2 linked regions of the Homo sapiens genome follow. The protein of the gene in region 1 interacts with the protein of each later gene in a biochemical or structural test. Each region holds a gene or a part of one and is shown in the gene's direction. Other genes may lie near its edges.

What was found.
Region 2: the proteins of CUX1 (region 1) and SATB1 form a complex in vitro, tested with the Homo sapiens proteins (one study listed by BioGRID).

Annotation. Positions count from the first base shown.
Region 1 is NC_000007.14:102,191,498-102,195,421, forward strand, and holds part of CUX1 (Homeobox protein cut-like 1), read left to right. Parts: intron 1-2,344; coding exon 2,345-2,393; intron 2,394-2,578; exon of another isoform or gene 2,579-2,708; intron 2,709-3,924. UniProt on the Homo sapiens protein: May be involved in intra-Golgi retrograde transport.
Region 2 is NC_000003.12:18,397,599-18,401,522, reverse strand, and holds part of SATB1 (DNA-binding protein SATB1), read left to right. Parts: intron 1-3,924. UniProt on the Homo sapiens protein: Crucial silencing factor contributing to the initiation of X inactivation mediated by Xist RNA that occurs during embryogenesis and in lymphoma.

The DNA of each region.
Region 1 (3,924 bases):
GCCGGGATTACATGTAACTTATTATTAAACATTACCTGGTTAACCTTCTCTACCTGCCTCTCCTATCCCATTCTTTCCTTCCTTTCCCTCTTCTTCCCTCTTCCAAAAAGAAAAAGAAATTGGGCCTTTTAATTTTGAGCCAGAGAAACTGCTGCGAAGGCCTTTGCCCAGCCTCACCCTGGGAGTTAGTCGTCGTCTTCATTGTCGTCTTCGTTGTCTTCTTCTTTCTTCCTCTCTTCTTCTTTCTTCCTCCTCCTCTTCTTCTTTCTTCCTCTTCCTCTTCTTCTTCCTCTTGCTCCTCCTCCTCCTCCTCTTCTCCCCCAACCCCCACGTTCACTTCATCCCCTGGGAGCTGAGGCTTCCAGGCTCCAGCCTGCAACACATACCGTTCTACTCCCTCTCATCCACAGCCTGCCGGACCACAGGCTGCCCCTACCCCCACTGAAGGGCTGCCACACCAGCCCCGCTTGTCACTGCATTTCTGCTAACTCTTTCTGTTGCGTCCGCACATGACAGGCCCCACCACCATGTGCACATCTGGAAGCCCCACTCAGGTGGCTTCTTTGCCCAAATGCGCTCCTAGTTTTCCACTTCCTGGTGAACCAGCTGTGCTCTTGAGCTCTTGCCCGCGTCCCCTTCTCAGCATCGTCCCATTTCCACTTCCTCACCCCCACGCAACAGGGGATGCTGACCTCAGATCCTCATGCACTGCAGCACAAGACACCCTGTCCCTTCAGGGCCCTTCTCCAATGCTTGTTCATCATGACACTGAGACGTGGTCTCCAATCCATCAAGATCCCTCCTGCTGGGGTCCTCACAAGTTCTGTCTTAATGGACCACTTGGAGTCTTGCCTATTACCTGTAATGGCCTGTAAATTTCCTGGAGTACGGACCAGGAGTGGTTCTGATTCCCCACGGCAACAAGCGGATAGCAGGCTGCTGGTAAAGATCTGTAGAATAGATAAAGAGCCACGTGGTCTTTTATTACATAATCCTAAAGAAAATAGGAAACGAAGGACAGGATTCCATCTTAAGAAACCCCTTTCAGCTGGGCGCAGTGGCTCACATCTGTAATCCCAGCACTTTGGGAGGCCGACAGATCACCTGAGGTCAGGAAACCAGCTTGGCCAAAACCGTCTCTACTAAAAATAAATTATCCAGGTGTGGTGGCTCACACTAGGGGGACAGAGGCCGAAATTGTGGCTGCAGGAACATGGCGAAGGTCCGGTTGACTCTGCACCTGCGAGTCGTAAATCTCACGGTCCAGCCAGCCTGCTCTGGGTCTCTCTCTTCCATCCTTGGTATTTCAAAGAAACACTTGCAGCTCCTTCAAAGCCACATAGCCTCACTTCCCCTCTTCTCCCTGGTAAACTCAGCAAAAAAGGGACATCCACAGCAAAAGGAACTCAAGAAACAGTAATAATCCTGGGGACCTGGACTCACTGAGACAGCCCAGAGACCGTAGTGATCAGGGTGCGGCCCTTTTCAGTGCCATTGAGAACAAGGGAGGGAGAAGTCACCTTCTCTTGCCACATCTTTGTCATTGCACTCCTTCCCCAACCTGGGGCTGCAGAGAAGGTCTGCCCACCTGGCTTCTGAGTCATCCAAGTCTAGGAGGTTGCTCTTTGCCTATGTCCCCTGGTCCCCAGGTAGGTGCCAGTTAGGAGTGAGGTGTGGGCAGTGGCCGCCCTGGTGGGTTCCCCTCTCTCTGGCTTCTCCTTACAACTTTTTCCTTCCCTTTAAGCTTTACAAATACATTCCACTTGCAACAATGTTATGTCTGTATTAAACTTTAAAATTATACTCTGAACAGACCTGGTGTGATTCCATATGGAATGATTTACATGCTAGGCAAGAAACTTTTGCCAGCCAACTGCTAGTTGAATAGTTATTCTAGAGACATTATCAGATTCTATTACTGCCAGGGAAGTTGTTAAAGTTGACAGTTCTTCGGTTCCTGGAGAGCAGGAAATTGTAATGTTAATGCTTATTAATGTGGCTGTTGTCAAAGGTATAAGTAGAAAATAATCACTCTGGTGGCTCATGCCTGTAATACCAACACTTTGGGAGGCTGAGGCGGGTGGATCACTTGAGGTCAGGAGTTCGAGACTAGCCTGGCCAACGTGGTGAAACCCCGTCTCTACTAGAAATACAAAAATTAGCTGGGCATGATGGCACATGCCTGTAATCCCAGCTACTCGGGAGGCTGAGGTAGGAGAATCGCTTGAACCTGGGCAGAGGTTGCAGTGAGCCAATATCGCGCCACTGCACTCTAGCCTGGGTGACAGAACGAGACTCTGTCTCAAAAAATAAATAAAATAACCCCTCTGTTGTGCTCTTGCAGCATTCTGAAGTCCATGGAGTTTGCACCGTCCGAGGGCGCTGGGACACAGGTACGTGTCTCACCTCAATGGTCAGCACTAGCATCAGCCCCGCTGCTGGTTACCACTGGTCCCTCCGGCATATCCCATGATCCACTGTTTCTACGAGACCTCTCACTTACAGCCGATGAGTCATACTTCAAGAACATTTAACCAAGTTGAAGCAAATTATCTTTTTTTTTTTGTCTCCTTTTTTTCCATGTGTCCAAGGCATGAACCAGGCATAGATCAAAAGCCAAGCTGGGGATGAACAAGGGATTGCTTCATCCCTGACTGATAGGAGATGGGCACTACCAAAAAGCAAATTATCTTTAACAAAAAGAGGCAAAAAGAGAAAAGCTAGTGTTTTCCAAACTGGTAACTGAAGTGAAATTGTGATTTCACTTCAGCAGGTACTAAGAACATAAATAAAAAACAATTTCAGATTGTGTTTAAGAAGGCCAGGCTCAGTAGCTCATGCCTGTAATCCCAGCACTTTGGGAGGCCAAGACAGGAGGATCGCTTTGAGGCCAGGAATTTGAGACCAGCCTGGGCAATATAGCAAGACCATGTTGCTATTAAAAAAAAAAAAAATAGCCAAGTACTGTGACATATACCCGTGGTCCCAGCTACTTGGGAGGCTGAGGCAGGAAGATCGCTTGAGCCCAGTAGTTCAAGGCTATAGTGAGCTATGATCGCACCACTGCACTCCAGCCTGGACAACAGATTGAGACTGACTATTTTTTTTTTAATTGCATTAAAGAGCAGCCAAAAATGGATTGGTTTAGGAACTTTAGTTACATGCTGCCTCAGTAGAGAAGGTACAAGGGAAGGATGACTGTGGCCCAGGGTCATCTGGTGGCCAATTAAAATTGACATCCCAGACCAAGCATGGTGGCTCACTCCTGTAATCCCAGCACTTTGGGAGGCTGAGGTAGGTGGATCACTTGAGGTCAGGCATTTGAGACCAGCCTGGCCAATATGGTGAAACCCTATCTCTGCCAAAAATATAAAAAATTAGCTGAGCGTGGTGGCGCACGTCTGTAATCCCAGCTACTTGGGAGGCTGAGGAAGGAGAATCACTTGAACCCAGGAGCCAGAGGGTACAGTGAGCCAAGATCATGCCACTGCACTCCAGCCTGGGCGACAGAGTGAGACTCCATCTCAAAAAATTAAAAAATCAAATCAAATAAAATTGACATCCTAAGTGGAATCTGACTCCTGATGCCCAGAAGACAGCCAACATCTTTGTGGCTGGCAAAAAAAAAAAAAAAAGAAAAGTTCCCTTTACAGTAACGTTCGGACAGACGTTTGTGGCTTGGCAGCCAGTCTTATGGCCAAATGAGGCACGGGCTCAGGTCGCTTGAGTTTGAGAACAGATGAGAGAATAATTAATTTTTTTAGGAGCTGTGGAAGTCTAAGAAGGAAAATGACTTCAACTAGAATCCATTCTTTCTAAAGGGAACTTGTTTTCCACGTGTGTTAAACGACTTGGGGGGAAATCAGCTGTCCGCAGCCCACTTCCTAATCAGATCGAGAGCTGGGTGGGAACGCGGACAGATGG
Region 2 (3,924 bases), on another chromosome or scaffold:
TGTCTTTTTCAAAGTGCTTTGGATAGCTTATATAAATAGACACTGAGAGAGAACTGGAATAACATAACCACCGAGCACTGCAACTTCCGAGACATCTGTGTGGATGTATTTTGAAAAACCTGGGAAGGGATCTCTTGCAAATTAATGAACAAAGGTTCTTGAAACTATGATTTCTATCACGACAGCCAAAGCGATGGATTTGAAAGATTCGTGTCATAGTTAAGCTGCTATTATGTTTGACCTTTAAGGGGAAAAAAGGGGAAGAGGATTTCTGGTGGCTTGTTTCAGTGACCCTTTTTATTGATCACCTAGTCTGTGTCCAGCCCTCTGATGAGTCCAGGATATATTCAGATGAGACCTAAGGCCCACAGTCCAGTGCAAAATAAACAGCAGGATGAGTGCTCTGCTGCAGGAGGTTTGGGAAGTTAGGAAAGGCCTCATGGAAGCAAGGATGCCCAGGCTGTATCCTGAAGGATGAGCAGCTGTTAGCTAGAGATGGGAGAGGGCATGGGCCGTGCATCCAAGCCAGAGGAGTGGTGTGCCTTCTTGATGCTTTCTACCAGATATAGGCCAGCTTCAGAAAACACCACCAAATTGGAGTATGAGAAGGAAAGAAATATTTCCCCGTGGTGTTTTCCTTTACTATTCCTTGTACCAACTTGTAACTTAATAATTTAATCAGTATACTTCATTCTACATTAAAAAGACTCAAAATACTGTATATCATTTGAAAATTTTATCTGATACTCAAAACATAGTCACCTGATATGAAATGTGATCATATAATGAAAGCCCAGTGATGAGGAGGAGGCAAAGGATTGTCATAGTAATTAATATCTCTTCAGTCTATATGTAATATGTTACAGGCTCTGTGCTAATTGTATCACATCTATTATTTCCTGTCCAAGGGCAGATAATATGTCTCTTCAAGTCATTATTTTCCTAGTGACTTGCCCAGTGCTTGGCACATAGTAGAATTTAAGTATATGCTAAATGAATTTTAAAAATGCCTGAATTGATGGATTCTCAGAACAACTCCATGAGGTGTATGCTATTATCATTCCCATTTAGCATAGGAAATTGTGATGGAATGGTCAACTATTTGACCCAAGGTCATACTACCAGTGTGTGACACATCCTCACTTGAATATATGTTTATTTCTATTCTGTTTTGTCAGATGAACATTTAGTGTTTATATTAATGCATGCCAGGCATTGAGCTAGAAAATAATATGGTGCCCCAGACCTACGTGAACTCACAGCTTAGTGCAATCTTTTTAAACCAGTACCTCCTTTTAAGTGACACAAGAATCCCAAGCCTTTCTAACATGGAACTTGGCCTACTATCTGTACATCCCACCACCTAGGAAAATTTTACCAATCATGACTTTTTTATTTGTGTTATCAAAACATTACGTGTTTTTTTCCTGATATTCTAAATTTAAGATTACACTACTGTATATGATTTTTCAAATGCCATGTGCACCACAAAATTCTGCAGTCTCTTTCCTGCCATTGAAACCGGCTGGCTGGTCTACTCCAATGCTATGCCTAAGCCTTTAGTAGGAATTTTACCACCTGAAACACACACACACGCCCACGCCCACACACATACACCTCATGAAGTGGCTATAGGAGCAATCTAATTGGACAGATTATTGCATATTGTCCAATAAAAATAGACATGACTCCAAGTTACCTGAATTAGGAAATATTTCCCAGTCACCCAAAAGCACAAAAAGATAGGGAATCCAAAAAGTTGCTTTGTCATGCATTATAAGTTACGGATTAGCCTTTTGATTTAAGTCTTGCTTAGGCTATTATTTACATTAATCAGAGTTTCCTAAGCATACACCATGTGACAGAAAAGCACTTAAGCCCAGAACCTACCAATTTAGGGTTAAGTAGGGTAGGGGGAAGCTTTGACAATGATGCACATATGGATATTATTTTCCATGTACGAATAATAATAAACTGTATAGCACTATTACATATAGGTTCTAGTTTTATAAAACTATTTCAGACATTTTTTCACACACACCATGGATGATTCTTCCTTCCGTCGTCCCCTATACATTTTCCACTGTTGATATACCAAATCACATTAAATTGAGATGATCTATTTACATATCTGTGTTCTTAATAGATAGTAAACTTCTTGTAGGCAGAGGCTGTCCGCCATCTTTGGATGACAGGTGCCTCATCTTTGTAGGCAGAGGCTGTCTGCCATCTTTGCATCCTTACTACCAGCCAGGCATATAGTAGGTGTGCAGCAAAGAGCAAATTTCATATATAGAACTGTTGGCAAACTGGAGTAGACTGGATGTTTGTCAAAAACCTCGGCAAAATTTGGATATTCCATACACTTCTAAAAAGTAAGACATAAACCACATCTAGAACTCATGTGTATTATTAACATTTAAGGAACTGCCAGAATGTCTAGATAAAGAGTAATAATTTTTTTAAAAATTGGACCAGAGTGGAAGAACATCAACTGTCATCCATTTGCAGAAGAATCACCATTATCCATCAGCGATCTCAATAGTTTTTATTAGTGTCTGACTTTATTGATCCCTTATTACAAGAGAGTAAGTGAGATTGAAGCTGACAGATCAGGTAATCTTCTGGCTCTGGTTTTGGCAACTTTGCTAAGTGTCTTTTTACACTGTGGACTGTGGGAGGCTCTTAGTGAAATTGCAAGCTATTGGATTAATGGCAGAGCATCATGAACACATTAAGAATGTCTTTTTAGAGATATAAAATGTGAAAATGACTATAGAGAGTGTCAAAAAAAAAGATATCACAGTGCCTCTTAGGAAAGATAGCTGTGTTTTACATAAATAATGCGACTCCAGCTTATCCTTCACTGGAAGTTCTTTAGAGATCCCCCAAATTTACATATTCCAGAAATGTGTGCATGCTACAGAATTAACACTGATAGTGGATGTCAGGAGAATGAATAATAACTGAAAGAGCTTTACATTAGAGGTAACTTAAAGAAGATAATTATATAAAAATACTTTTGTCCCCAAACTGGCTTTTCTGGTTGTTCACTGCCTCCTGAACAATGCTGCCTTCTATAAATTATTTCACCATAGACCAACTGATGTCTGAAATGTGAGTTCTCATGTTTCTGCACATAGGGGTGAGGGATAGATTGGTGCTACAAAATCTTACTCCTAAGACTCGGTAGGAAATTAAGTTAGCTGTTACTAGAGAATATGGGTAACAGGTTAATATGGACCATGAATTTAGTCATTGAAATTACCGTAACCAAAATTTGCTGGGAAGATTGAAAATGATTTAAAAAAAGAAACCCTCCTAGTGATTCATTAAAATCATGTTTTTCTTCATTTTTGTATGTTAAAGGGCTGACAGTTTTCCGGGCATTTATTAAAAGCAGGATAAAGATAAGTCACGATAGGTCATCTTTTTGTGGTATCCTTGAGAAATTTAGAAGCATGAAATGTATAAATTTAAAATTTTTATGATCGGTTTGAAATTCAAAACTTAAGCTTTACTATTGATGAAGCCAGTAATAAGATTGCAGAATGTTTTTCTCTTGATAGAGGATCTCTGTGAATAGTTTGTTTCTTCTCAAATACGGTCAGTTAACCTTTGATCAGTGTTAATGCGCGTCCACTTTAAATCCAAATAATAGAGTGGAAAGTGCAAGTTCTGTTTCTCAAATTTTAATATACATGTGAATCCCCTGGGATCTTGGTAAAATTCAGCTGCTAAGTGCACTGGTCTGGGGTAGGGCCCAAGATTCTGCATTTCTAACAAGCTTCCAAGTGATGCCCATATTGCTGGTCCCTGGTCTATACTTTGAGTAGAAAAGATGTAGAGTCCAGTCAAAAAATCGCGAAGTCTCGTATATTTATGAGTCACAATTATAAAGTCATCTTCATGTATTTGGATTTA